4 separate regions of the Homo sapiens genome follow, and regions 1, 2 and 3 are each reported to be linked to region 4. The links are microRNA targets in miRTarBase. Many come from high-throughput screens and were not tested one by one. Region 4 holds a microRNA gene; each other region holds the end of a gene's coding sequence.

The links. The annotated mature microRNA hsa-miR-3152-3p reads UGUGUUAGAAUAGGGGCAAUAA and lies in region 4 at 4,719-4,740, opposite strand. An mRNA with a match to its seed (bases 2 to 7 or 8) in the 3' UTR can be bound and repressed. Matches are read on the target gene's strand: a 7mer-m8 pairs with bases 2 to 8, a 7mer-A1 pairs with bases 2 to 7 and ends in A, and an 8mer does both.
Region 1: miRTarBase lists RAB23 as a target of hsa-miR-3152-3p. Seed matches in the 3' UTR shown: 7mer-m8 at 1,647-1,653.
Region 2: the mRNA of RTF1 is a reported target of hsa-miR-3152-3p. Seed matches in the 3' UTR shown: 7mer-m8 at 4,616-4,622 and 7mer-A1 at 3,898-3,904.
Region 3: the mRNA of EEA1 is a reported target of hsa-miR-3152-3p. Seed matches in the 3' UTR shown: 7mer-m8 at 5,035-5,041, 7mer-A1 at 3,159-3,165 and 8mer at 1,317-1,324.

The regions. Positions count from the first base shown.
Region 1 is chr6:57,183,981-57,191,104 of GRCh38, reverse strand. It overlaps RAB23 (RAB23, member RAS oncogene family), which reads left to right. Exons shown (of 7, transcript NM_016277.5): 7 at 505-4,113. The coding sequence ends at 644. It overlaps BAG2 (BAG cochaperone 2), which reads right to left. Exons shown (of 3, transcript NM_004282.4): 3 at 1,272-7,124. The coding sequence ends at 6,915. Among named protein-coding and RNA genes, the nearest start is that of BAG2, 15 kb to the right of the region's middle.
Region 2 is chr15:41,479,389-41,486,512 of GRCh38, reverse strand. RTF1 (RTF1 homolog, Paf1/RNA polymerase II complex component) reads right to left here. Exons shown (of 18, transcript NM_015138.5): 17 at 6,188-6,299; 18 at 2,950-5,932. The coding sequence ends at 5,826. It overlaps LOC105370790 (a long non-coding RNA gene), which reads left to right and starts at 144. Exons shown (of 3, transcript XR_932169.3): 1 at 144-283; 2 at 1,834-2,018; 3 at 7,022-7,086. RefSeq lists an enhancer at 2,790-2,839.
Region 3 is chr12:92,769,702-92,776,825 of GRCh38, forward strand. EEA1 (early endosome antigen 1) reads right to left here. Exons shown (of 29, transcript NM_003566.4): 29 at 936-6,432. The coding sequence ends at 6,310. It overlaps PLEKHG7 (pleckstrin homology and RhoGEF domain containing G7), which reads left to right. Exons shown (of 17, transcript NM_001377329.1): 17 at 387-2,754. The coding sequence ends at 494. Among named protein-coding and RNA genes, the nearest start is that of PLEKHG7, 70 kb to the left of the region's middle.
Region 4 is chr9:18,570,966-18,578,089 of GRCh38, reverse strand. It overlaps MIR3152 (microRNA 3152), which reads right to left and starts at 4,784; the gene lies at 4,711-4,784. ADAMTSL1 (ADAMTS like 1) reads right to left here. Exons shown (of 29, transcript NM_001040272.6): 4 at 3,824-4,060.

The sequences.
Region 1 (7,124 bases), not on the chromosome of region 4:
AAGCAAAATGTGGTATATACATACAATGGAATATTATTCACCCTTAAAAAGGAAGGAAATGCTTCAGTGTTCTACGTTGGATGAACCTTGAAGACATTATGCTAAATGAAATAAGTCAGTCCCAAAAAGACACTATTATTCCATTTATATAAGGTAGAGTAGTTAAAATCATAAGAGACAGAAGATAGAATGGTGGTTGCTAAGGTCTGCAGGGAGGGGGAATGGGGAGTTAGTTACTGTTTAATGGGTATGAGTTTCAGTTTTAAAGATGAAAAGAGTTATGGAGATGGACGGGGGTGATTGTTCCACAACATTACAAATGTATTTAATACCACTGAACCGTATGCCTAAAAATGGTTAAGATGCTAAATTTTGTTGGATTTTACTACAATTTTAGAGAAACTGTAAATACTTGAAAATATTACTGATTTTACTAACAAGCTGGATGCAACAGGTAACTCAGGCGTGTCAGTGGCAATCACTCTTTTCCCTCAATTTATACAGGTGTCTTTAATACATCTGGTGGAAGTCACTCCGGTCAGAATTCAGGTACCCTCAATGGTGGAGATGTCATCAATCTTAGACCCAACAAACAAAGGACCAAGAAAAACAGAAATCCTTTTAGCAGCTGTAGCATACCCTAAGATGTTTTGGGAGGAAAACAATTGAATTACATTGTGCAATGCATTAAGAAACCCATCCAGCTGTCATGGTATGTTACAAGGTTTTCAGCAGACTTTGCTCCTAATGGCTCTCTGAAAGTGACAGACTTAAATATTGCTCTGCAGTGCTTTTCAGAATGTAGAGTGAGACCTCTGGTGGAAAAATTATTGCCCTGTGGACTCCTTTAATTTTTTTTACATTAGACGAAGCTTCTCCTGTTTGTAAAGGAATGCTATAAGAAATTTCAAACACAGGTTTTGCGGAATTTTAAATGCTGGAAAACATAAATGAAATGCCTAAATATATTGTTACAGATTTTAATACTGTGGATCAAGGAAAGATAGCAAGCATTCTTTTCCTGAAATTGGTCATGTAGCTTTTCTGCGAAATAGTATTGAATCTGAATACTTTCACAAAATAATACTGAAAGGTAAACCCTAAATCTTGCCAGACTGCATTAGTATTTTGGCATTGAAACTTGTGCAATATCTGTGTAATGTAGAATGTGGGGTGTGCATGCAGATGTCTGGTACTGGAGTAAGCTGAAGGTATGTGCAGTATTTAAGAAAATGTACATTCTAATTAATTCACTTATAAAACCATTTACATATTGTGTATATGTTTTTATTTTCAAATGATAAACTCTAGACATATATTTTGCAAAATGAGCTTGGGTTTAAAAAGTGCTTTGTGCCAAAAATATCATACCTAATTTTTATAGTGCTTTACTATCAGAATTTATATTGTTTATTATATCTTTTAAAAGCAGTAAGCAGTTTTCATCTGACAGCGTAGATAAAAGAGGAGTATAGGAATTTGAATGCTAGAGCATCTCCCAGGTGAGCCTTATTGCAGATCTTTTTGATATAGTCACCCATAAGCATGGTGAGCTCCTGCTCTCATAAGGTCAGCCAAAGCCCCTTAAGAAGGTACACAGCACATCTGCAGTCATTCAGGAGGTCCTGTGAAGTGTGGTGATGCATCTAACACCTTTTGCTGCTCACTGAGAACCCAGCTTTGAACTTACAAGATTACACTAACCATTTTTAAAGTGCACAAAAATATTATTATTAGTCTTAACTAAAATTACATATTTTATAATGCCCTGCAACTCTAAACCATCCTTTTGTTTACACATTTTTGTATGGTATTTTAAGATTATCAATCACTTCAACATTTCTATAACCTTGTTTGTATAGCACTTTCTCAAGAGCTGTCAGTCCCACATACAGAATCATTTCTTTTACAAAATGATTTAATATGTAATCATGTGTCAGGACATAAATTTTGTCACTTGGGACAGTAGCTTTCCAGCTAAGATAATTGCGTGAACTCTGTTAAAACTGATTATCACTCATCAATGGCTTTATTTTTAACCTATAAATAACCCCTTTCAATATACCTGGTTTTTACAGCATTGCAAAATCTGTAAAAATAACTTTTATTGGAAAATGTCATGAAGTCATTTTTCATTATTTGTACTAAACAATGTTTTATGTACTCCTTTTGTGTTTTATCTTTTGTTTTTCCATCTGTACTCCCCTCATCCTCCTAATGTTGAGAAAATCAAATTTCCTGGGTGTGTCCTTGTTAAGTGATCAAAAGTAAATGTTCTCTTTGCCATTTTAGATGGAAAAATAAAAAAAATTAAAAAGTAAATTTTTGCTTTTCATTATATTGAAATGATCTGGCATTATCTATTTCACAGTAATGTAAAATGCTTATTTTTATGTCACCAGTTGTCACCACTCCCATTGCTGATAGTGACATAGGTTTTGGGGGCAAAATTCAGTTCCTAACAAACAGTGGATACTGCTAATGAGTCATCTTTTCTACTCTCTTCAATTTTCTACTCTCTACTCTCCTCTTTAATTTTTGCACAAAATAATACTTTGCAACAAATAGTCTTTTGTCTTTATTGGCAGAAAAATCACTTGTTATATGTGTTCTAGTTAGTTCTTTTTCATGTTAGCTGTGTGGCTAAAAGCGTGTTACCTTTCTATATTTAAAAAAAGTAATCTCTGAGGATAGTTACAGTTCCTGTAATATAATTTTATGTACCTAGTTTTATCTTTTTTTAAATAAGAACTGAAGAGAGAGCTTTGTTACATATTTGAATTTTTAATTTGCACTGCTGTATTTTAAACCTAACCATAATTAGTCATTTAAAATAATTAAGTAGGCCTGAAAGTCAGCCATGTTAATTTCTCAATTTAATCAATTCTTAAAGCCTTCAAAAATTGACATTTTTTTTCCAAGACCCTTCATTCTCTTAAATAACTTTAATTTTATGAAACCATGTATACTAAAGAAAAACTTTTCCAAGATTCCAGGTGATTGTGCATTTGTGCTCTAATCTACTTTTTTAACATTACGGCTAATCTTTTGCGTAGACATATCGCTGTGGAATAACTGCCATATTTCAGAGTTCCTCAGGTTTCCTTTTCCTTTTCCAGTCTCTGTCTATGAATTAAATAGTATATAGAATGACCCATATAAGGCAATATAGTTAAATAAAACCAGGTTAAATGATTTCCTTTGTATCTGCCCAAAGTTGATAGCACACGTTACTTTTTCAAAATAAAGCTAAAACTACCAAAAAGAGGATGAAAACTTTTTCCTCATTATGGAGTGAAGTTCTAGGTGGTTGCTTTAGAAGTTGGCAGTGCAGTGCTCAGAAGGAACTCTCAATAAATAACATGTACTCCTTGGACCTGTGAGTTTTAGGAAACTGGACCTTTTCTGAAGACCTTAGAATAGGGAGTTGGCCTTAGGACCTAATGTCCCAACTTAGTGTTGGACCCTTTTAATATAAGATATTGTTAATTATTAGCATACTTTTCAAAACCTTTGAAATAGTTACTGCTAACCTGATAAAATGTTCCCATTAATCTATCATTAGTCTGTTTCTCTGAAAACAAAATGCATTGATGAGGTGAAAGCTTGTTCCACATGGCACCTACCTAATGAACAGGACTTACTCAGTTTTTAACTGTTAAGAATGTCACATGTACTATTGTCACTCCTTAGGTTTTCAGCTATAAAACATGTAAGTCTCTCATCATACAGATGAATTCATTTGCTAACAAAATATTTAAAACCCGCAGTAGACTCTGAAATATCCAGTCATCAAACTCCTGGCTAACTGGATGATTTGGCTATAATAATCTTTATTATTATTATTTTCATCTGTCTCTCGAAATATCTACAGTAGGATGTTAGTAAATGGTCTTTTAAAAGCAAAAAATTGGGGATAAAAGGAAAACTGAATTCCTTCTATATTTTTATTACTAATAAATAATGCTTTTGTAAATTTGAATGGAAAACCACTTGTATGTATTGCTATTTGGTTGCAGTTACACTCTGGAGCTTAATTTAAAACACTACTCTAAAAATTTCATGAAGGATGAATTCCAATAATCAGAAAATAAATGCATTTCAAAGCTAAAATTTTGTGTGATATGTATGATTGTATCAACAGTGTGGATCTAAATAGTAAAATATATAATGCAACTTCTTTAAAGATCAAAGCAACCTAAAATTATTTCATATTTCAGATACTCTGCCAATATTTAATACTCTCATTTTATTGAAAGTAGTGCTAACAAGGAATGGCAGGAGGGCTACCCTAAAATTATGTATTATATGCTAGGAATGGTAGAGAATTGAGATACAGCAAAACATACTCTATATCCACTTATAGTCTATATAAAAGACAATAGTTTAAATGAGGGTAAAAATGTGACTCAGGAGATTCATCATCATTTGAAAATAAATTATACTCCCATTCTTATAAATAAAAATACATGTTAAGAACCAACCCATTGGCCAAGCGTGGTGGCTCATGCCTGTAATCCCTGTACTTTGGGAGGCCAAGGCAGGCAGATCACAAGGTCAGGAGTTTGAGACCAGCCTGGCCAATATGGTGAAACCCCATGTCTACTAAAAATACAAAAATTTAGCCGGGCGTGGTGGTGGGCGCCTGTAGTCCCAACTACTAGGGAGGCTGAGGCAGGAGAATCGCTTGAACCCGGGAGGTGGAGGTTGCAGTGAGCTGAGATCACACCACTGCACTCCAGCCTGGGCAACAGAGCAAGACTCCATCTCAGAAAAGAAAAAATGAAACCTCATGAAGTAAATGAAACTATAGAAACTGCCTCCATAGCATATATTCAACACCAAACGTCTACAAAATGTTTGTTCTCTTCCCTTCACAGTCTCTTTTCCCTAACTCATATACTCCATAGTGTTCCTTGCTACAGTGGATATGTCTTCTACTTGTCAGACAGCCTGGGTGACAGAGCAAGACTCCAAAACAAAAAACAAAAAAACAAAAAACCACACTGGAGATTCCCTGCCCTTTAGATGTGGCTCTAGGTACAGAATGCTGGAGACACTGTAAACCAGGGACCCCAAGCAGCTTGGAAATGTGGATCATAGCTCTTCAAGTCTGTGATCAGAAATCAATGACCTCCATTAAAAACTCCATTGCAAAAAAATGGGAAAAATAATGCTAAGAATACCAAGGTCAAGGAGGCAGAGCCAGAATAATTTGTGTAGAAAAAGTCCTGGACTGATGTGGAAGCCATGGGAAGCAGGGAGCAGTAGTATTTCCCAGAGTGGAAGGGATTTACGGATGCTGACAATACTTGAGAACCTGAAGAAAACATGACTATCCATTTCTTAATTTTCAAAAAGCTGGTCAAGAAAAAAATGATGCACACAAAAAATCATCTCACAGTCTGATGACAGCAAATCAGTCTGCTAACAAACCAAGTGGCTCTGCCATAGATAGAATTAATGTTTCCCATGAAATGCAAAGATTTAAATAAGGCAGAGTTGGAGCTGGCAAAGGAAGTAACATGAATGTCTTCAGATTGTAACTGCTTTTTATAAAGAGACTAACTTGGCATTTTTGTAGAGAAAATGAAGTTTGATATTGCTTGCATTGAGAGATATATACATACATAAAGTCAGTTTGGATCTTGATTTGGTTTTTCAGTGTGAAGAATACCTACATTCAAATAAAAATTGATGTGTTCATTTCAAAATAGTATCCAGGGAAGTTGTTGTGGTTTTTGTATATCAATAGGACTAGTTACTTTGAACAAATAAGTGTTCTCTAGTTGCTTCACACTTTATCAGATAAAAGAAGAATCAACACACTGGTCAACCTTTTTAGTAAACAAAATGCAAACTAGGTATTAATGCTCAGTGCTGGAAATATTTCAGTGAAATAGCTATATTTTAATTACTGAAAAAAGTATAAATTGCTGTAACCTTTATACAAAAAAAGTTTAATATGTGTGAGGCCATGAAAACGTCTATATCCTTTGACCCAATATAATTCACTGCTGGGCCTTTATACAGAGAAAAACAAAAATGAAAGAAGGAAAAAGTCCTGTGTACAAAAATATGTTGCAGTAATAGCAACAAGTTGGAAACAACCTAAATGTCCATAAAAGAGGAATGGATAAAGATATAACTACACAAAATAGAGCTCATTAAGTTGACAATTAAGCAGACTTTATATCAGCATCTAACTTTTTTAAAAAAAGGCAAGTTACAATATAGGAATTTTAGAGAATTGATGCATTTGAGAAAAGATGAAGCAGATAGATATATAATTGTTCACAGTGGTAAATTATAGGTGGTTTTCTCACATTTTATGTCAGTTTCTTGTATATCAAAAAATACATTCATATTATGAGACACAGGAATCTTTACATCCAAAATAATTTGATACAGATGCCTTAACATTGCTGAATGAGACAACTTTGGAAAGATTCTTGTTTTGTGATTCCTTTTTACCCTCTAAGCACAGTGCTTTGTTAACACTGTGTGTGTAGTAAATGTGTGTGCTGCTTAAGGTAAAGAATTTCTAGTAAACTAAATGCCCAAGGTGACTGCGTGATTCCATGCCAGACAGGAAAAAGCAGTCATGCTTTTTGCCCCTAGCTGAACGTTTGTTTTCCCCACAAACTATGTATTCATCCACAGAATAGTGAAATATGCTAGATCCTAGTACAAGACAAGAATTCAATCTAAAAAATCTCTAGATAGATAATTAAAATATTGCTAGTTTTGTTATTCACAAAACTGAAGATACTTGATGGAATATTTTCCTCATCTGAAACAACTATCAGTGTCAACTAAGTGGTTATACCTAACAAAGAACTAGTTATCAATTAAAATAGTATTTTATCATTTTTACACCTTGTGTATTGTGTAAATGCTCTTAGGTTTGAAGACTAATTGAATCTGCTTTCAGCATTTTGTTGCAGAGTTTTGGAACCAGCTCCTTTAGAATGCTCTAATAGCTTGATGGCCTTGTCAGAGTTTTCAATATTTCTAAGCAGAGTCTCTAATCTTCTCTTAATTTTCTTCTGATCTTCAAGAGCACAGCCAATTACTATGGATTGAAACTTCTGATCAACTGGCCCATGTGGCACCTCAGATGA
Region 2 (7,124 bases), not on the chromosome of region 4:
GGCCCCGGGCCACTGGGACCCTGGCTCTGAGGCTGCGGGCCCGGAGTGGGGAACGAGGGCAGAGCGCCCTGGAACGCAGCGGCCGCGCGCCTCCTCCCTTGCTGCGTGGACTGGGCGCTAACGGCGCAGGAGGCGCACGGGGCCAGGGATGCGGGGACCGTTGGCGCGGACAAGGGTGGCGCCCAGGCCGGTGCGGGGGGTGGTGGAGACACCAAGCGGGGAGCGCCGAAGGGCTCTCCCGGCAAAACTGATGGAGTCAACCTGAGGCTTCCGGGCTTGCCAGGTGAAGGGCTGTGCTGCATCGCACGCGCTTAGCGAAGCAGGGCTATCCATGGCTAAAAGAGAAAAAGAAATCAAAAGTATTCGATTAAAAAAAAAAATAGAGGCCGGGCGTGGTGGCTCACGCCTGTAATCCCAGCACTTTGGGAGGCCGAGGCGGGAGGATCACAAGGTCAGGAGTTCAAGACCAGCCTGGCCAACATGGTAAAACCTCACCTCTACTAAAAATACGAAAATTGGCCAGGAATGGTGGCACATGCCTGTAATCCCAGGTACTTGGGAAGCTGAGGCAGTAGAATTGCATGGACTTGAGAGGTGGAAGTTGCAGTGAGCCGAGATTGCGCCACTGCACTCCAGCCTGGGCAACAGAGCGAGGCTCCACCTCAAAAAAAAAAAAAAAGAAAGAAAGAAAAAGAAAAAAAGAAATGGAGTCTCGCTATGTTGACCAGGTTGGTCTCGAACTCCTGGCCCCAAGCGATCCTCCCTCCTCGGCCTTTTAAAGTGCTGGGATTACAGGCAGGAGCCATGGTGCAGGGCCCAAAAGTATCTATCTTTTGAAGAAGTATCAAGGTAATCATCATGGGAAGGGTCAGAGCTTTGTTGTGCTTCTTTTACACTTACCTTCTGGTTTGGTACTATTGGTGCTATTTTGAGTATTCACTACTCTTGGGGGTTGTGGGTAGGTCGGGCCTCAGTTGGGGCCAGCTGGAGGGTGGTAAGGTGGCAAGCCTTCAACGCCTTCAGAAGCCTGGTCAGTAAAGGTGGTGTGCGTTGGCCTGTGGGGAATGACAGCAACGAGGGCCTGGCCCAGAGGCAGCACACTTTCTCTGGACGCATCCCTAGGCCAGCCCAGGGTCTCCCAGTGGGAGCCTCCATCTGGAGTCAGGGTTTCTTCCCCCCCTCCCAACCCCAGCCCAAGTGGAGTTTCTGGTCCTGCCCACTGCCCAGTGCTTCCGCCCTCCATCAGCCCACTCCAAGGGCCGTTCCTCTCCTCCAGGGTCCAGCGGCTTCACTCTCATTAACAACAGCATTTATTGGACCCCTACTGGGGACAGGTTGTTTTTTGAAAGGTGGAAAACTTGTGGCTCAAAGGTGTTAAGTAGCTCAGCCCTAGGTAATAGCAAGTGGCAGAGCGGGGATCTGAACCCTTTCCCGAGCCTGGGTGCCTTTTGGCTCTTGGCCCTCCCTTGTATCCTGAGCATGGTCTGGAAGCCCTAGACATGCCTATCTATGCTCCAGTGCCTAAAAGCCGTATCTCCATGTTCCCTGGGGCTGGCCTGTGGAACCTTAGAGAAGGCATGCCTTTTGGCCCTGTCTTAGCACTGCCATTCCCTTCAGCTCCTTAACACCCTCCTTGCCAAGGGAGCTCAGCAGTCTCCGCTTAAGTCAGGGAAATCGTGAAAAAAATTTGAGCTGGGAGTTGATGGCTTCCTAAGGCTGCTGGATCACAGCCACATTATAGTTACTGAAGGAAGATCTCCCTTCTGGAAAAACGTGGCCAGGGAGATGAAGTTGACCAACCCAGCACCCTTCTTCTCTCCACTTGCACCCCAGGTGTTCTTTCTGGATTCTCAGAGATAGGTAGCAAGTGGCTGCCCCACAGCACCCAAATCCTGGAAGATAAGCAAGCTATGTTGTCATCTGCCCAGAACCCCTGCTCTCTAGGTCCCACTGCTCCCACCAGTTAGGTAGTGGGAGTGCTGGGGAGTTGGAGAAAACCTCATTGGACGCACTTGCAGGTAAGCAACCTCTCCACCACCAGAAGCGGTCTTGGACGTGGCTCTTATCACTGTGATTGCCATCCCTTGCCTTCTTAAAGGGTGTGGAAGATCCAGGATCTTCTTGCTTCCTAGCTAAAATGTGTTCAGAAAGGTTGGAGACACAGCCTCAGGCACTGGGGATGGGGAGGCCTATAGACCTCCCCAGCATGAGGGGTGCGTGGATGAAGGAAGATCAGTGTTTCCTCCATAGCCACACTCATGGCCCTTGGGCACCCCCTTCAAACTCATGATAGCCAGAAAAAAGAAGAGCAAAGAAACTGTGCCTAGGCCAATTTAAAGTTGAAAGGAGCTGAGCACAGTGGCTCATGCCTGCAATCCCAGCATTTTGGGAGGCTGAGGCGGGAGGATCACTCGAGGCCAGGAGTTCAAGACCAGCCTGGGCAACATAGCAATATTCCGTCTCAACAGAAAATTTAAAAATTAGCTGGGTGTGATGGTGCATGACTGTAGTCCCAGCTACTTGGAATGGTGAGGTGGGAGGATCACTTGAGCCCGGGAGGTTGAGGCTGCAGTGAGCTGTGATTACACCACCGCACTCCAGCCTAGACAGCAGAGACCCCAGCTAAAAAAAAAAAGGTTGAAAGGCCCAGATTCTCACTAGGGTTAGGCAGTACATCAGGGGTCTACTTAGCTCTGTTAAAACTTATTGGTCTCTTACCAAGACAGGAAGTAAACCAGGACAACTGGAGGTTTCCTTGGGTCTAGGCAACTACCCTACCAGAGAGGCTTCCGGGGAACCAGGCTGCTAAAGAGTTGACGATGGCCACTTTCACTTTTGTGGGCACAGGGCTAAGAGAAGAAGGAAAAGGAGCAAGAGAGGTTCTCTTGGACTTTCAAAACATGGCTTTAGGAGTTGCCACTCAGGATGCAATCCTTAGACTCAATCTGATCCCTTTGTTAAAATGGCATAACATTTATTTACAATATTGGTACAGTTTGAGTGGCAAGTCAGGACTTCACAAAAGCAAAAACATTCTTTTTGAAGGGAGTGGCAGGCAGTAGACTTTCCCTACACCTGCCAGAAGCAAGACAGACAAACAGACCTATAAACATTATGAACTAGGCAGATGGACACTGGCCTTTTTGCTTCTTGGAAGGAACTGAAAAAATGCATAAAAACAACCTTGGGTGCTGCACCCTTCAACACTGAAACCACACTGTGGAGGGAGGAGGGGCCCAATGAGGGAATTCCCCAGCACAAGAAATAGTGTGAACCACCAAGAAATCCTAGTTGGTAGGACAAAGCCAGTGTCTTAATGCCTGACCAAGATCTTGGTTCAGAGGCACTGCCTCAGCTGAGATTGGAGACAAGTCCTTAGTCTTGGTCCCAATCACTACAGAGGCTACTCGGGTGGAAAGATACCCTTCGGTCTTCTTTGGTTGGCTTTTCTCCCTGCTGTGTGCATTGGCATCTCGTGGGGGTTTCAGCGGCTACATGTGGGGAGGTGGTGGCAAAGTGGCTACAGTGTGATGCAGTTTTAATAAAAATTTTATTACACAGCCATAATGTAATCAACACTTCTCCAAATCCAAATGATACTAAATACAGATCTACATGGTGGATCAGAATGACTCCAGCGAATTATCTGGATTCTATAATTTTATGTTTTTTAAAACCAGAAATCAAAAAAAAAAGTCCAAGTTCATCATGATAGGAGAGGTCCCAGCAGCTCCAGGACTCTGCTGAAGTCCAGGCAATGTTAACAGTCTGTGATTCCACATTTACACAATAGTCTATAAAGAGTTTCGGTCAATGGACTATTCAAGTATATATGATTTTAACGAGTCCATCACCACTCCTTTGCCCAAGTGAACTGTGTCACAGCTACCACAAAGCTGTGTTACAGTCATATTTAGCAATTTTACAATCATAATACTCCTTTAAAACCATCCATTGCTGCTTTAAAAATAAAAAAAAAGTAAACTAAGTTAAAGCGACACTGAGGCTCTACTAAACCCAGAAGTTACCAAGTTCATTTTTATGTTTAAATACAACTTACAAGTCCATGATTTCCCATCGTCCCCCTTCCTTGTACGAAAGCAGGGTGAGGAAGTACAAAGCAGAGCTTTTAGATTAGTCTCTCGTGGAGATCGGAGCTCTCAGCTGTTCCTTTAGCTTAGCTCTTGGTATATATAGTCAGCTGTACTTTGTTCTGAAAGATTTGTTAAATGCCACTTTTATTTACACTTGGAGCTTTACACCTGAGAGTGATTATCAAGCAGTCAGTTTATCTCTTTTCAAACATTTCATAAAGACATACACACACCTCTGCTGGCTTCGCCCTAGCTGCACAATATATATGCTGACCATATATATGTATACACACACACAAAACTGCACATGCTTGAAACATTTGCAACCTAAATCTTTTTGAGGCGGAGTCTCACTCTGTCACCCAGACTGGAGTGCAGTGGCACGATCTTGGCTCACCACAACCTCCGCCTCCCAGGTTCAAGGGATTCTCCTGTCTCAGCCCCCCGAGTAGCTGGGATTACAGGCACGCACCACCATGCCCGGCTAAGTTTTGTAGTTTTAGTAGAGATGGGGTTTCACCGTGTTAGTCAGATTGGTCTTGAACTCCTGACCTCAGGTGATCCACCCGCCTAGGCCTCCCAAAGTGCTGGGATTACAGGCGTGAGCTACTGCACCCGGCGTAACCTAAATCTTTTTGTGTTTGCTCTCCACATTCATATTCAGAAATTTCTCTTAAAAACAAAATGTAGTTCTTGCCAAAGCAGCAAAACAGAATCACCAGGAAGAGGCTGGTATACTGGGTGAGAAAAAGAAGTTCTACGTTCAGCCAAGAAGCTGTGGGCTGTACCCATGGGAAGAGCAAGACATTCACTGCCCTCCCTGGTACCTGGCCATGGGCTTCCCTCCCACACCTGCCAGGACACAGCCTGCAGGTCAGGGGGCTAAACTGGGGAGTTTTCTCCAAAGTTGGGAAAGGATGGGAAGAGTAGGTGGGAATGGGGAAGTTACACAGCTACAGCAGTCAGGCCTGTTTAGTAAGAAGAATCACATTTAATGAGTTTCTTTCTTGCAGTTTCAGATGCTCAAGTACAGCTGAAAAAAATCTGAAACAGCTATAGACCCATGACAGACTGATACAAAGAGTACTGCATTTTAAAAAAATGATAAAAAAATCCACACACTTACACACACACACATACACACTCTCGCTCTCAAATTAGACCCCCCCCCCCCACAAATGTACACTTTTTGGAAACTAAACTGGTTTTGAAACCCCTTCTTCCAAAAAGAAGGGCAGAAGAGAAAGATGAAGAGAGGAAAGAGGATCGCAGGTGCCCAATCCCCGCTCCCCCCACAAGGTCACGTGCCGAATGTTCAATGGGTGGGCCAAGGCAGTCTGTAGAGGAGACCGCCTGGTGCTGCTGCTATTGCCCCAGGGGCTCCAGCAAGATTCCCAGCTCCATGGTAATACTGAATGCGTGCAGAGTGGCCAATGAACTGCGCGGTTAAAAAAACAAAAGGCAAACACAAATCTAAAGACATGGATAAAGCCCAAGAGAGCCCAGGCCCACACTGGGTGGGGCCCTGGGGGAGGGGAGGCTGGTGGGAGATGGTGTGCAGACAAAGGAGGTCTATACAGCAAATGGTTTATATTACAGATGACTGGCAGTTTAGAGTCTCTTCCCAGTTCAACAGCTGCTCCAGCCCAAAGAGGCTAAATCAAAGGAAAGGAGGAAAGGTGGGACGCTGCGATGGGGCATGCAGGGTCAGAAGCAGCAGGCTGGGTGTGCTCAAATAAGCCCTCGTCGTTTTTTGTAGTCTTCCAAGTTCAGAGATCTCCTTGGAGCCCCATCCTTGGCTGGCGGAGCCTTGGAGGTGATGGCTAAAGCCTTTGACTCTGTGGGAAAGAAGAGCAAGTTGGCAGCTGAGGTCCCACAAAGTCCTCTTAGTCCTGTGCTACACTCCTGCAGGCAGCCTCCTGACTGTGGCCCTGTTCCCTCTCACCATACCCACAGCCTGTCTTGGCCTGGCCTGTGGATGCTGATGAGCCAGCATTCCCCTTTCTTCCCTAAAAGTGGGCTTCCTTGTTGCCCCAGAAAACCATGGATCCATCTGGTTCTCAGCCCTCACCACCCGCCCCACCCTCACATACCTGAGCTGGGAACTTGTAAGTCAATCTTCACATCAAAATCGTGTACTTTGAACAGATCTTCTGAGAGGTCACTGGCTGACTTAGAATTCAAATCTTTATCTTTGCCTTGACCCTGGAATGTGAAGAGGAAAGCTAATGGTAAGAGCATAAATGCAAGTGGATTTCAAGCAGCAGCAGCCACTAACGGTACGAAGCTCTTATTTGAGTTCATTAGATTTTCCTACTAAGGCCCCTTTCTGATTCCTTCTCTCAGAGGGAGGCCACAGACAAAGAGCTTTCTCTCCTGAAGGCTACAAGCACAGAGAAGAGGGCAGGCTTGTGTCTGTGGTATGAGTGTAGAAAGGGTGGGCTTAAGCAACGGGTCACTTCCTGACCTAAGATTTCAGAAATCCTGAGACCAGTTAGACTACAACAGGAAAAGACTTAACTTGGACAGAAAACTGCTTTTTTTTTTTTTTTTTGAGGTGGGAGTCTCACTCTTGTCACCTAGGCTGGAGTACAACGGTGCAATCTTGGCTCACTGCAACCTCCCCCTCCCAGGTTCACGCGATTTTCCTGCCTCAGCCTCCTCAGTAGCTGGAGTTATCGGAACCCGCCACCATGCCCAGCTATTTTTTTTCTATTTTTAGTAGAGACGGGGTTCTACCATGTTGGCCAGGCTGGTCTCGAACTCCTGACCTCAGGTGATCCGCCCACCTCCGCCTCCCAAAGTGCTGGGATTACAGGCATGAGCCACTGCGCCCAGCAAGAAAACTGCTTTTAAATGTGCCATTTTCAACAAGCTTTCACTTTTACAATGTCTGATCTTTGTATGTTATCTCTCCTCCTGTGAAGCTGGCAGGGTATACAGTAGTACCCTCATTTTACACAGCAGAAAAGGGGATGCTGAGGGCTGGAAGCCAGCTGCTGAAGGACATAGTCAAGGCCCTAGGCAAGT
Region 3 (7,124 bases), not on the chromosome of region 4:
CTCAGTCTCTTTCAAGTTATACTACAGGTTAAGAACTTGTTTCCACAGAGAATAGAAATTCCAGCAATGCCACTTTCAAACTACATATATTCTCAGTGCTCATTTTTCTAATGAGTTATCATTGACTATTGTTTCTTGATTACTCATAACTGTTATCCAACATGCATACCATACTCATTTAGCCCATCTGCATTTTCCTGTAAGATTAGAAGTATTTATATTAGATGTAAGAAAGAAAATGGGAAACATATGCAAATGTTTCATTAGTCTTCAGTTTTAAAGAGCTGGTCAATAAATATAGCAGAAAATATTAGCCCAAATATGTGAGAAATTGTCAGCTTAACATTCTAATCTCTATTTATGTATTTTTTTCTTTTTTTCAACAGAAAACATGGATGGCACAAATAACAACTGCAATTTCTTGCTTTACCAAGAGTCAGGAAACCAAGAAAATATCTTTATTCACATTGCCCGCAGAATCCTCTGAAATTTAGGGACCTAAAACAAGTGGCATGTCTTTTTAGAAGATTATGGTTTAAGGTATAATTTCATTCAAAGTTTTGTAACACTTAGCTAGTGATAAGCTAGAAGGAAATTTGCATTTTAAAGAAGTTTCAGAATTTGAAATTTTGAGCTAGGAAAATCCTCAGTATAGAGGAATAATGACTGCAACAAATTTGAACTCTGAGGAATTTCTTGACAAATATATACTGACATCCAGATTACCTTCTAATGCTTCCGTCAGGTTTGTAAGAGGTGTGAGTGAAGAAAGGTGCTAATTTGTAAAGGGTGAATGATCAGATAAATGGAGTATCAGAAGGAAAACAATGTCCACTGCTTATGTCCAATATGAACTCCAGCATCTTACTCTGTATCCATAAAATAATGAAACCAATTTTCCTTCATGGCCTGTCAATCAGTCTTAACCGCTTTATAGTCCTACCTCAAACATAATGATAAATCTTTAGATACAAAGCTTGATTGTTCTTTTAATATACAAAGCAATAAATAGGGACTACATTTAAGTAGCAGTTTTAAAATTCCTATTCTCAAACTCATCTCAGGTATATAGTACTCTAACGTGGAAGTAGAAAATCCCAAAGACTAAATTCCATTACTTTAAGATAGGAAGAAAAAAAAAATCTGGCTTTCACCAGTTAACACTTTTGCATGGCTTTTCTTGGCCTGTTGTGAAGTGTACAGATTTTCATAGACATAGTAAGGTATCTGTCTCTTAACTTTATTTTTTGAAGAATGATGGTGTTTGCCATAAAAATACTTTCTGGTTTTGATTGGTGTGTGTGTGTGTGTGTGTGTGTGTTAGCACAGTACAGTCACTTAATTTTATTTGGCAGGACTTCAAATTTCTTCAGAATTTTTATCATGAAAGGCAGTTTGAATAATTATTATCATGGCAGGATATATACTATTAACTACATTCAAGGAACTAGTTCTTAGGGTCAGATTATTGCATCAAAGGGAAGTCCACAAACTTCCATTTCAGAATCGTACCTTTTGCAATTTGCAAAGTGAAAGTAGTAAATTTATCAAATTTGGCTGCAAGACAACTGAAGCCTTAGCTGATTTTGTTAAGCTGAAGAATGGGGTAGAGAGGATAATGTTTGGGCAAGTCATGTGCCCAGTAATTCCTTGAGGAAGGTGAAATTTCACTATGCAAACAAAGCAGTAAAGACAAGTGCAGCAGAAAGGCTTTTGTACAAGGCAAGCACTATTAGAATGGAGACTAATAACCTCTTTATAATAATGTCAGAAATTTAATAGAAGAAAAAAAGGAAAATCTGGAGGACAGTAACTATTGTTAATAGCTAAGAATAAATGAGGTGGAGGGGAGAAAAAGGGGAGAATAGACTTCAAGCTTCAAGTGAATTCCTAGAGATGGCATCTGGATGGGACTGAAAGCAGTTATGTCCAGGAGAATACAATATAGATTATGCAAGAGAAGATTTTATAAAGAAATTTCTGGTTAAAAAAAATTTTTACATTAACAATCATCTTGCAAATGTTTAGATATAAACTAACCTCGGAGGTGAGCAGTGGACTAGGATGAGGTGGCCTCTCAAATTCCTTTAGTCCCATGAATCCAGCAACCACAGACTTACATGTATAAAGGTAGTTTTCTCCCTCTGAATCTCATTAAAGGGAGAGACAGACTGACTAAATTAACAAAATATATAAAACAGCTCAAGAATATGCTGTACATAAACTGGAATTCTATAAAGCTCACAAAGTAACATGTCTAATATACAATATATTAGATGTTTGAGGATATGCACATTAAACTCTTTGGAGGGTTTAGAATGAAGCACATTCGAATGAAGGGATCACGGGGGTCAGAACAAAAACCATTCTAGAACCGTGGCTCCCAGGAAGAAAAAATAGCAAAAAACAATGGCACATTGGGCCTTCCAAAAAGTATCTTTGGGGAGGGGAGGGAGAAAAATAAATAAATAAATAAATAAATAATGTTTTAAGTATCTTTAAATGGTCATCTGGGTATTAAATGCAGACACACAATGAAATAAGGGGTTAATTACATATTTTTTATATTTGTTTTTAGTTTTGTTAATTCTCTACAATATTAAATGGAATGTCTAAGGCAAAATGGCATTAATAATTTCTCTTGAGATCAGGAATTTAATTACTATTCGAAATTGAACAACATTAAAACACCACTGTCTATATCCAAGTGCAAAGTCCTAATATTCTGTAAATAAATTAATGCAAAATGGTTAATACAGTGTTCTCTCTTTTGTTAGACAAAACAATTTATAGTCACAGAATACAACTAGTTTAGAAAGAAATGTTTTTAATATAATATTTAAACATATTAAAAAAAAGCAACAATTCAATAAGGATCCTTCCATTGTTCTTTATACAGATTTAAATGCTGTCACGTACTTTATCAGTTACATTTATAATTAATAACCTTCCAATCACTGAGTTTAGAAATTGCAGTATTTACTGAGCTAACCTTTCTCACAAAGTAAGGCACAACTACATGATCACAAGTAGTAAACACAATACAAATAATGAACCCAAAAACTAAATGAGAAAATGTTCATGCATAAGTATCTACAGAACTTATGAATATATGATCCAGTTCAAGGAATTACAGAATGTCATATACACAACTGCATTGTGTTACAATAAATTTATTACTTCTACACAGAAAGAACTTAGTGACTTCTAATTCTATTTTATACAATTTTACATAAATTTAGTAAGTTTATGCACAATATTCACATCTGCAACAATAACAAATTGATCATTAAAATTCAGGCTAAGGGCAATTAAGACACAATAATGTGTGGCACGTTATAATTACAGAATACCATTCATCAAGCTCATGTCTAGGAATACTATAATGGTGGCACATTTAAATCTTATGGATCAAATCATCCATGGTTTTATAGCCAAAGTGCATTTTTTTAAAAAAACTCCTATAGTCAAACAGGTCATGAATATCAAAATATATGATCATAATTTGCTCTCTACTTAAAAGCTAAACATTTTTATGCAAATGTAAGGTTAAAAAAAAGTGGCTTTAAAGTTCTCAAAACTATATAAAATAATCATAAAGACTTTTTTAAGAGAGATGGGAAAATAACAAATTTGGCAGTTACTATTTAACATTACTGTCAGGAAACTATTAAAGTAGATAATTCCACATTAAGAGGTAGTTGAACAAAATGTTATTTATACACTGCATTGAGGTTTTTGTGTTTGTTTCCCTCATTTTTTCTTCAAAGGAACAAATCCTATACCAGCAGCTTTGTCTTCTTTCTATTAAAAAAAAGTCTGTAGGTATAGTTTATTGTACACTAACCCAGCAAGACTTAATTTTAACTCACATTCTGTGCCGGGGTTTGGAATTTACTAACATTATGTCAATGTGCTTTTCATTAAAGCCAAGAGCTGTACATGCCAGCTTTAACTGACTGACAAAATAATAGTACCAGCAAACATGTAAAATGTACAGCCAATAAGGACTTCAAAGATGACTTTTTAATTAAAAGGAAAAAAATTTAAATTTTTATTTCGAAAACACATTAAATTGGGGAGAGTTAGTAGCAAAAAATGTTCGGTTTCATTTATATTATCAGTATAGTAGCCTATGGTAGGTAAATTACTCGGGACTTATGAAATGAAATTAGATAAAAATGAGAAAATCATTCAAACACCTATATATGGTTACTTGTTGTCTTAAAATTTTTTTGTGAGTATTTTGGGGGTAAAGGGGAGACAGACAGAAGGCCTGGAGTGGTGTTCAATTAGGAGACAAAGTAAACAAATATTCAAACCCAGATTTCTCATGGAATTTATTATCTCAAAAAAAAAAAAAAAACAGTGGTGCTGTGAATATCTGTGTTTTTCCAGCACACTTATTAAGTTATTTATATGTAAAAGGATAGAATTAAAACTATTTGGAAGGATTTATAAGTATATAAAAATGCATAAATAGTTCAGTTTATATTATCCAACTATTATTTTTAATAAAGAGCCACTGTATTTCTTCATTATATATGTTCAAGGATATATGTTTATCCAAGTCCAGGGACTTAATCAATGTTCTTAATAGCTAATGACAACAGGGTTTACTTAAATTTTTTTTTAAATAATTAAACAAATATGTAGTGATCTCTTTAGTTTACATACACTGTAGGTATAGCATGAATATAATTTCATTTCAGAATATTTGAAAGCAAATGTATATTAAGAACTATTATAAATGAAATATTAACTACTGTTATAAAATGATTGCACTGAATGAATGTATAACTACACTTCTTCTCTAGAAAGATTAATAAACCAATATTAATAACTTCTCTCTTGAGATGTTTTACAATTTTCCAAATTAATAAGACTATGCTAAATTAAAGTTCGATTCCATTGTTCAGCATACAAATAAGCTAATTTCTTAATTATCCTTAAGATGCTTAGCCATGCTGTTTCAGTTTTTATTGTAACTGGGATTCCTAAATACATTTGTTTTTGGTGATACTCTATTTCTAGGTGTTAGTTACTTAAAGGGAATTTCACAACATTATTTTTGCAAAGTTAAAATTAAAACTGGGAACAGTTGACATGGAACACCAAATTCAGAACCATTTTAACTTTAAGTCAATTTTACAACTTTTAAAAATTCTTCCCAATAGGGTAAGAAATAGAAAGTAAAATATTTAATGTCTTCTTATCATTTTATATTTTGTTTTCACCAATAAGACCACAGCAATATTAGTTACTAGCTTTAAGATGCAAAATTATAAAACAAATACATGAAGCTGATCTATGCTTGAAAATGTTAAACCAAATAAAGGAAAAAATCAGATCTATGTAAAAAGCAAACTCAGGTTCCTGAAGATGCTAGAGAGACAAAATAAGGGTATGATATGAAGGCTGATCTCAAAAGACTTCCCACTTACAAGAAACCGAGAATAAGAACATTATACAATGTTTATTATTCATCCTCCAACTGACAGCGAGGGTAAGAAGCTTTCTAAGATTCTAAATGGACAATGCGTGGGAGTTTAAGAAAGAGACAGAAAAAGACAAAAAGAAAAATTAACCCTATTCTTTGCAATACAACCCCAGATAACTATAAGTAAACAAATTGATTTTACAGAGGTTTTTATAAAATCCACCCAAGAAAATTTAATTAATATTGTTAAAACAAAAACCATTTTTGAATTCATATTACTACATATTTTAAGATAAACTGTATTTAGAACACCCAAGTAGTAAATTCATAACATAACAATGCAACTGAACCATGAACCCACATATAAGAGAAAAAGGCAGAGGAAAGTGTTACAGTTCTGTGCATAACTTCACAAAGAGAATATTTAATATAATTAATGTGCTATTGTGCAACAAAAACAGCAACAAGTGATAATATCATCCATGTACATTTTTGTACATTAAATTTAGGAGAAAGAAGTAAGCTATGGAATTGCATTCTTCATTTGTGAATAATGAAATTATATTAAAAAAATACATTGCTATTTTCTGTCCAAAGTTTATTTACATTTCATTGGCTAATTCTAAACTTGGCATGAAAGCTATTCCAGGGGCTAAATGGGAAAAAAGTAATGAAAGATGATAAGCCCAAGTCTCACAAAAATAGAAGAGTTTTACTTGATATCCATAACATTCCAAAATATACTAATTCCTATTTGGTCTAGTATTGCAACCAGTGTCCAAACCAAATAGTAGTCCAAGACCTCTATTAAGTACATTTATTAAAAATCTAATGTTAGTGTAATATTACTCTGAAGTTGTGATAACCCATTATCCTTGCAAGTCATTGAAACATGCATCACAGACACGAACAGGCTTCTTGGAGGAAGGAGTTAAGGCATTTTTGGCTGAACATTCAGCACAGAAGATATTTCCACACTGTCGGCAGTGATGCTGTAAATGACAAAAATTAAACAATTTCAAGAATAAAAACTATACCAAAAGTATTATGAAACTACATGAATACCACCAACTACATTATGAAGGTACATTAGCTTTCAAGTCATTGGTATATTATTTAATGATATGTTTCAATATGTTAACTTAATCTCTGTTATAATTAAATTGAATGCTTCCTATTTATCAAACACTATGCTAAACATTTTACATAGAATTTATTATGGAACTCTCAAAAGAACCAGAGGAGGCATTTAAAAAGTTTTTATAAAGTATCTCTATCAAATGAAAAACTATTCCTATTTGCCAAATGTTTCAGGCACTAATGTCTCCAAAAGAAATATAAACTTAAGTCATTAACACAATGGTAGTATTTAGAATATATTTTTAAAATACCTCTGCTTTTTCTTCCTTTAAAGAACCCAATGATTACTAAAACATGAGTTTAATATTGGTGCACTGATTCAGAAAATGATTGTCCCAGACAGTAACTAAGTTGGAAGACAAGGACTGAATTTAAAAGTAAAATTCAAACACATATGCTAACCAAAAGCTAGACTGCATGAAGTTATTCTATGTTGTTGTTAAAGTTTACTGATAAACAGAAAATTATTCTGTCAAATGAAGGACTATTTTGATGGTTAAAACATTAATTATCAGTGACAAATGAAATCCAGAAACATAGTTAC
Region 4 (7,124 bases):
TGCTGGGGCTGGACTAGATCATCTCAAAGGCCCTGCTTTCAAACGCTGGGCTGTGAAGTGCTATTAGTGACAATTTCTGTGCTCTGGAAAAAAAAAAAAAAAAGAGAAAAGTAAAGGGCAGTAACTTTCTCATAAGACAAACTATCTCCAGTTCAAAGAATTGTCCTTTATTCTGAAACTGGGTTCTTACTACTTCCTTGTGATGAACGTTTCAATTGTGAAATGATGATGGGGATAGTACATGGTAGAAGGTCTCTTTTTGTTTTTTTTAAAGTCATTACCTAACCAATTAAGAAGTTTGTTACTTGTCACATCCTGGGAAGTTTTTTGAAACGTTACAGTTATAAAATCTTATACAGGGAACCACTAGTTTAATATATTTTTCAACTTAAAATTTTCAGAGTCTTCTACATTTCTACAGCACTTTACAGTTTATTAAACATTTTCACATATATTTTCTCACTTTGGTACACTATGGTCTAGGAGACAATTCATTTTCCACAGATTGAAAAATGGAGCTTAGGGACGTTGCGTATCTTGACCAAGATTACACAGCTCGTTAAAGAGGAGCTAGATTCAAACTCATGTTGTATTTATTTATTTAGAGATGGAGTCTTGCTCTGTCACCCAGGCTGGAGTACAGTGGTGCAATCTCGGCTCACTGCAACCTCTGCCTCCCAGGTTTAAGCCATTGTCCTGCCTCAGCCTCCCAAATAGCTGCGAATACGAGCACCTGCCATCACGCCTGGCTAATTTTTGTATTTTTAGTACAGACAGGGTTTCGCCGTGTTGGCCAGGCAGGTCTCAAACTCCGGACCTCGAGTGATCCGCCCTCCTCAGCCTACCAAAATGCCCAGATTACAGGCATGAGACACCGTGCCTGGCCCCAACTCATGTCTTTTGACTTTAAATTCTGTCTGCTTTCCAATCTGTAAGTGAATCTGGCCATGATAGAATCATAAGAAAAGTGTTTTCAATACATAGAATTAATAAATCTGAATTTCTGGAAGACAGGTCTTAAGAGTTGTGTCTTTTAAGAGCTCTCCAGGTGATTCTGATAGGCAGCCAAATCTGGGGACCATTACCAAATGGTCTGCGCCTCTGTATACCTGGCCTCGCTGGAAAGAATAGGAGTTTTGAACTCAGACAGAGCTGGGAGTCTCTGGGCAAGATATAAAATCGACCTGAGCCTCCAGTTTCCTCATCTGTGAAATAAGGATAATGATGTCTAACATGCAGAACTGTAAATATTTGAAAAAAAAATAAAGTACCTAGATACGGTAGTCACTCAAAAATGGAAGCTATTATCATTACTACTACTACCTCGTATGATGCTCTATTACTACTGAGTAAGAATTAGGTATATATTATAAATAGCAATGATTCTAGAACTTTCCTGAAGAAATTTACAACAAACACATGCCACCCAAATTATTCGTGATCTCAGGACAGTCTCCAGGTCTCAGTTTCCTCTTCTATGAAACGGCAATAACTGTGAGTTGCTAAGCTATCTTCTGGCTCTAAAAAGTCCAGGACTCTGTGATTCTATTTAAGAGTTAAAGAACCAGTCTTGAGAATGTGGCTCTTTGAAGAGTATTAAACAGGTATACTTGAAATAAATTAGTGCATATGAATGACAAATTTCTATAGCTATGCTGTCATTTTCTATCAAGGTGAGACTATGGTCATCCATGGTTTACCACAGTCCTGTCTGCCGTTCAAGCCTCCATGTTTCTCTCCCAAACTACCTCCCTATTCTTACTGCATAGCTAGGTCTTATCTGGCTCTCCAGCCAAACTAAATTTCTTGTTAGTGCTTAAATGCAATCTTTGTTTTTCCATCGCCTTTACTACATGATTGCCTCTAACAAGACAAATAAATGAAGAAAATAATAATAATAACCAGTCATTATTTCTACGTATAAGTTACAATGCTTTTCAAATACGGTATAATTTACAAATTATACCGTATTTGCTCTCAAATCTGTCATACTCATAAGAATATAAGTTAAAGCATGTTTATACTTGTAACCCAAAGTCCAGTACTATCACTCCATATTTATTATATATGAAATTTATTCCTTAGCAACTGAGATAGGATTCTCTTTCAGTTGCTAAGGTACCATGAGGCCTGCTGGCAGGATTAGTTTAGGAAAAAATATGCCACGTTGAACTCCCATGCAAAAGAAATAAATGAAACCTAATTTGCTGAGCTGTCTTGTTTATTTTGGTTCATTCAGCAGGGTAATATAGTAGCAATAACATTGAATGGGATCTCAGGAGATGTGGAATTTAGTCCCATTTCTGGCATGACCAAACATACAGCTTTCAGGAGATCAAGCATATTTTCTGGTCCTCAGTTTTTTCACTTCTAAAATGGAAATCTTCCTTGCTTTTACTCAAACAGTATACATACATAGGGAGTTATTATTCTTTTGTTTGCCATTCCCTACAACACAGTCCCCTTTCTAAATCTATTTGCTTTACAATTCTCTACTATTCCTAAAGATTTTTCAGATTCCCTAATTCCATTTCATTACCACTAAGAGTCCTAGAGGAGGAAGTAAATAGCAAAGATCAGAAATGATTTATTCAGATATATTGCTTTTTAGAATGTTGATTGAATAACTCTAAGGCCCTTTCTAGCTTTAAAATAGTAAAATTCCACATTCAAATTTACACCTGAAATTCATATATCTCTTGTATATAAGGAAACCTTAAGATATGTTTCATCAGTGACAAACTCCTATATGACATCAGTTTCTCTGCCTCATGATTTTAAACTTTAGGAAGGTTGACTATGTTTGTTTCCCTCTTGCATGCATAAAACCTTGCCTGACATCTCACATCTCTTATAGTCATTTACACTACAGTTTTTGCCTTTACATCCAAATATAGATGTAAGTTTTAAAAAAATAAATTTGAAACAACAAATTACTAAAACATATATTTCTCTTACATTCCTAGCCGTGATATTATACATTCTGAAGAGAGAAAATTTCAGCTGACACCATGTTGGAAAAGGCAAATACTCTCAAAATTTTGTGTCTGCTTCATGAAATATAAAAGCATATAGTCAAATACAGCACACAGAAAAACAATAGCAACTGCTTGCTCCAAAAACTAGACTGGTAATCCTAATCCAAAAAGTGGACCTGAAAATAAAGATGGCAAAGACATGACAAACATACAAACCCTTTTTCACCTTACTAATTCCCTACCTAGAGTAGACATTGATGAATGGATGGATACCAGAAATCAAACCTTTTTGTAATCCTGTTTTAAAGATTTAACTGGCTTAAGTCCAACCTAGCTGGCTCTTCCATGACTTTCTCTACAGTGTGTCTGAATTTTCAATACAATGGAAATTATAGTAAAGTAGCAAGTTTTCCTACAGTTTACTTGGGGATTTTAGAATTGGTCTTACCTGATTTATTCTGAAACTGAGTCAATGAAAATCCAGTCTCTAAATACACACACACACACACACACACAAACACAAACACACACTTCAGGAATAGCCAATCCAGGGGATAATTTCAAAGTCTAGTACATAATTGATAAACACTATTCAAAAATTTTTATTCTTTTATATTCAAGTGACACTCAAGGAAAGAAAAATAACTCTAGTCTACTTTTCCTTCGCACAATACAACACTTGGTACTTTTCACTGAAATCATACCTTAATTTTCAAATCTTTCACCATTTACAAACTCTAAAAAGTGTAAAGATGAGTGATTCAGAGAGTGAGACTATGTAAACCATTTACACAAAGACATTGAAACCCTCTGGACAAGTTGAATGAGAACAAATCAGCACTTACTTGGCATAAACCACTGATGCACATATCCAAAGATTCTGTATAGCAACGCGTACCATCTAAGACCTTAGGTGCTAGTTCAACAACCAGGGTTGTTCCTTTGGCTTGGCACTTGAGTGAACATGGGTTGTCAGGGTCATTAGACACAGGAAGCCATTCATAAAACTGGCCATGGTGCTTGACATCATTATGAGCTGAGCATTGCTGAGCTCGGAAATCACCTGCTTCTGGTGGGCAGTCCTGGAGAAAAAAGAGAGAAAGGACATACAAAGGTTAGGAGGATACCCCCAAACATGAAACCAGAGCAGCTATATGGTCTGCTTAGGTCTTAGAAAGCAAAACAAATGTCCTGGTCATGATAGATGGAACTTATAATATCATCTTAGAGGTTATATGATTATTTGGCTTGCAAAATGTAGAAATCTGATAAAGCAATCACCTCAAAATACATTTTCTGATTGAGTTTAAATGGAAAAATAATTGGCTTGAAATAGATATTCTGATTAGGTGGGACATACATTTTTTGAAAGTTGTCTATTGGTTCATGAATTCTTCCACACTGTACTATCATTTTGACTTCCTCATAAGTAGAACCTAGTAAAGTCAGAGGATTAGTTGAAATTATTTGTCTCTTTCAGTTCTGATATTGAGAGCTATGACAATTGTTTATTTGAATAACTAGCAGTAAAAAGTTATAAAAATTTCATTCAAAAAGTTTTTGTGGAGTTGTAATTTTTTGTCTAGGACTTAGGTTGCATAGTATCTAGAATTAAACATGGGGAACAAAAAATATGAAACCATTTATATATGAATTGCTTTGGCTTAAGGCAGCATGGCAGAATGGAAAGAGCATGGACTTCCTCCTTAGATGGGTGGGTGGCTGCAATGCAGTGCAGAGTTATTGCCCCTATTCTAACACAGGGAAGCCTAGTCTTGTGTTAGAACAGAGGCAATAACTCTGCACAGCTCTCAAGGTTGTTGTGAGAAGTTCACGAACTCATGCTGGCCAAATATATGCACAAGGAATATACTGAGTAGATGGTAGCTATTACTATGATTATTTAATGAGGCCACAGAAGGCAAAGGGATGGAGTATGAGGAGATTCTCTCAATTTGAATTGTAAATTATATTGTTAGAGATCAGTGGAAAATAAGAATCTTTTTGATGTAAGTTTCATAAAGGGCAATTTAAAATGTAAAACTATGGCTAACAATGGCCATTATCTAATGAATAATAAATCTCAGTAAAAGCAGGTAAGATTTAATTTTAAAAAGGCAAATATTGCCTATCCCTTGGAAGGGCTTTTTGATAGGTTTATCTTATTCTACAAGCCTTCAGATTAAAATTTACCATGGAAGACTGTCGTCGACTCTCCAGCTGTAGAAAGGCTTTTATTCTAATTTTTTGTTTTAAATAAAGGATTTCCATGTAGCCTTCAGCAGTTCCCTGTTACTACATTATCATTGTGAGAGTTCTCTTATATAAGGTTTCTTTCTCTGAAAAATCTCTTTACCTTTAAATAAGCATTCTAAAACAGCACTGAAAATTTTGACTCTTTTCCAAAACATTAGTGATACTACTAAAGAGCATATAACGCTCTGGTAGTTGAGGGAGCACAAATTCTTTCTAGGCAATGTGGGGTAGAAACAAATATTTATTTAGGATGAACATGAAATTGTTCAAAATACAATATAAAATGTCAAAGACATTTTACTGTTAGTATTATGTGTTCTCAGAGTGAATAAACCATAGTAGCAGAGGAAAAGAATAATGTATATAACATAGGTACAGATACACAGGCACCCAGCAAGGCTTAACATTTTGAATATTGTCTGAAAAGAGTATGAATAAAATTTACCAATTATTAATTTTTTAGATAATAGGATGCAGTTTAAATTTTTTAAGATCCATAAATAAATAAATATGTGTGCTATACAGGCTGTTTACACGTTTATTTTGTAAAATAAAACAAAAACTACCTACAACCAGCAAAACTATATTATGAATTACAACACAGGTAAATTGTGTCAAATCATGACATACAATACAAATTAACTTTATTTTTTTTTTTTTTGACAAGGAGTCTCGCTCTGTCTCCCCGGGTGGAGTGTAGTGGCGTGATCTCGGCTCACTGCAACCTCCGCCTCCTGGGTTCAAGCAGTTCTCCTACCTCAGCCTTCTGAGCAGTTGGGATTACAGGCATGTGCCCCCACACCCAGCTCATTTTTTTATATTTTTAGTAGAGACAGGGTTTTGCCATGTTGGCCAGGCTGGTCTCGAACTCCTGACCTCAGGTGATCCACCTGCCTTGGCCTCTCAAAGTGCTGGGATTATAGGCATGAGCCACCGCAACTGGCCACAAACAACTTTAAATGTTTAACACAAGCTCCTTTCAGACCATATGTTCTAGAGCACAGAGAAACTGATTTAATATTGTCTTAATGAACTCACATTCCAAAGATAAGACTTCCACTTGCCTAATTTACAAATTCTACCAATATCTGCCTAGGCCTCACTTACTAACTTCTGCCCTAAAACAACTCTATAACTAACAACTGCCCCCAAACTCTACACGTAGCCTTCCTTAAATTTCCCCACTTGAGATACGATAGAGTCTCTGTCAAGGTGCTGCTCTCTCCTGCTTAGCATGTTTAATAAACCTACCTTTATATGATCCACAAGTTCCTGGTCATTGAATGGGAGCGTCTAAAGTTGAACTGACAGTTTAGCAATGTTTAAATACAGTATTTTCGTTTGATAGTACCTATCATCCCAGGAGTCACTTGATTACTCAGTACAAGTACAGAAGAAGTAGAGTACATTGTACTGGGGGTACAGTACTTCATTATACTGAAATACAATAAAGCAGAACATTGAGGAAATTGTTTGAAATGGTTCCAAACTCCTCTTAAAATTTCCTTTGCCTCCTTTTTCTATACAAGTGAAACAGTTAGAAGGGTCAGGCTGAATCGCCTCTGCCTTAATGAGCAGAAGATATAATTAAGAGACCTCTTAATATGAACCAGGGAAAATTTTCTGCACGTTTCCAATTCTGATAAAAGTGTCAATTATGTTTTTAAATTGATAATGCAATATCATCTTAGTACAGACATAAAACCTCTACAGAGTCTCCTATGATTCCCCTCTGTTCAATAAATTGTGTTGGTTCTTTCCACCTTTCCTAAGAAAAATAGGACCTAAAGGCAGTCAAAGGTAAACCAATGAAGTTAAAATGTTAAGACCTTTAGGTTCTGTTTTCTGTGACAAACACAGTAAACACATTTAGACACATCTTAGAGACTC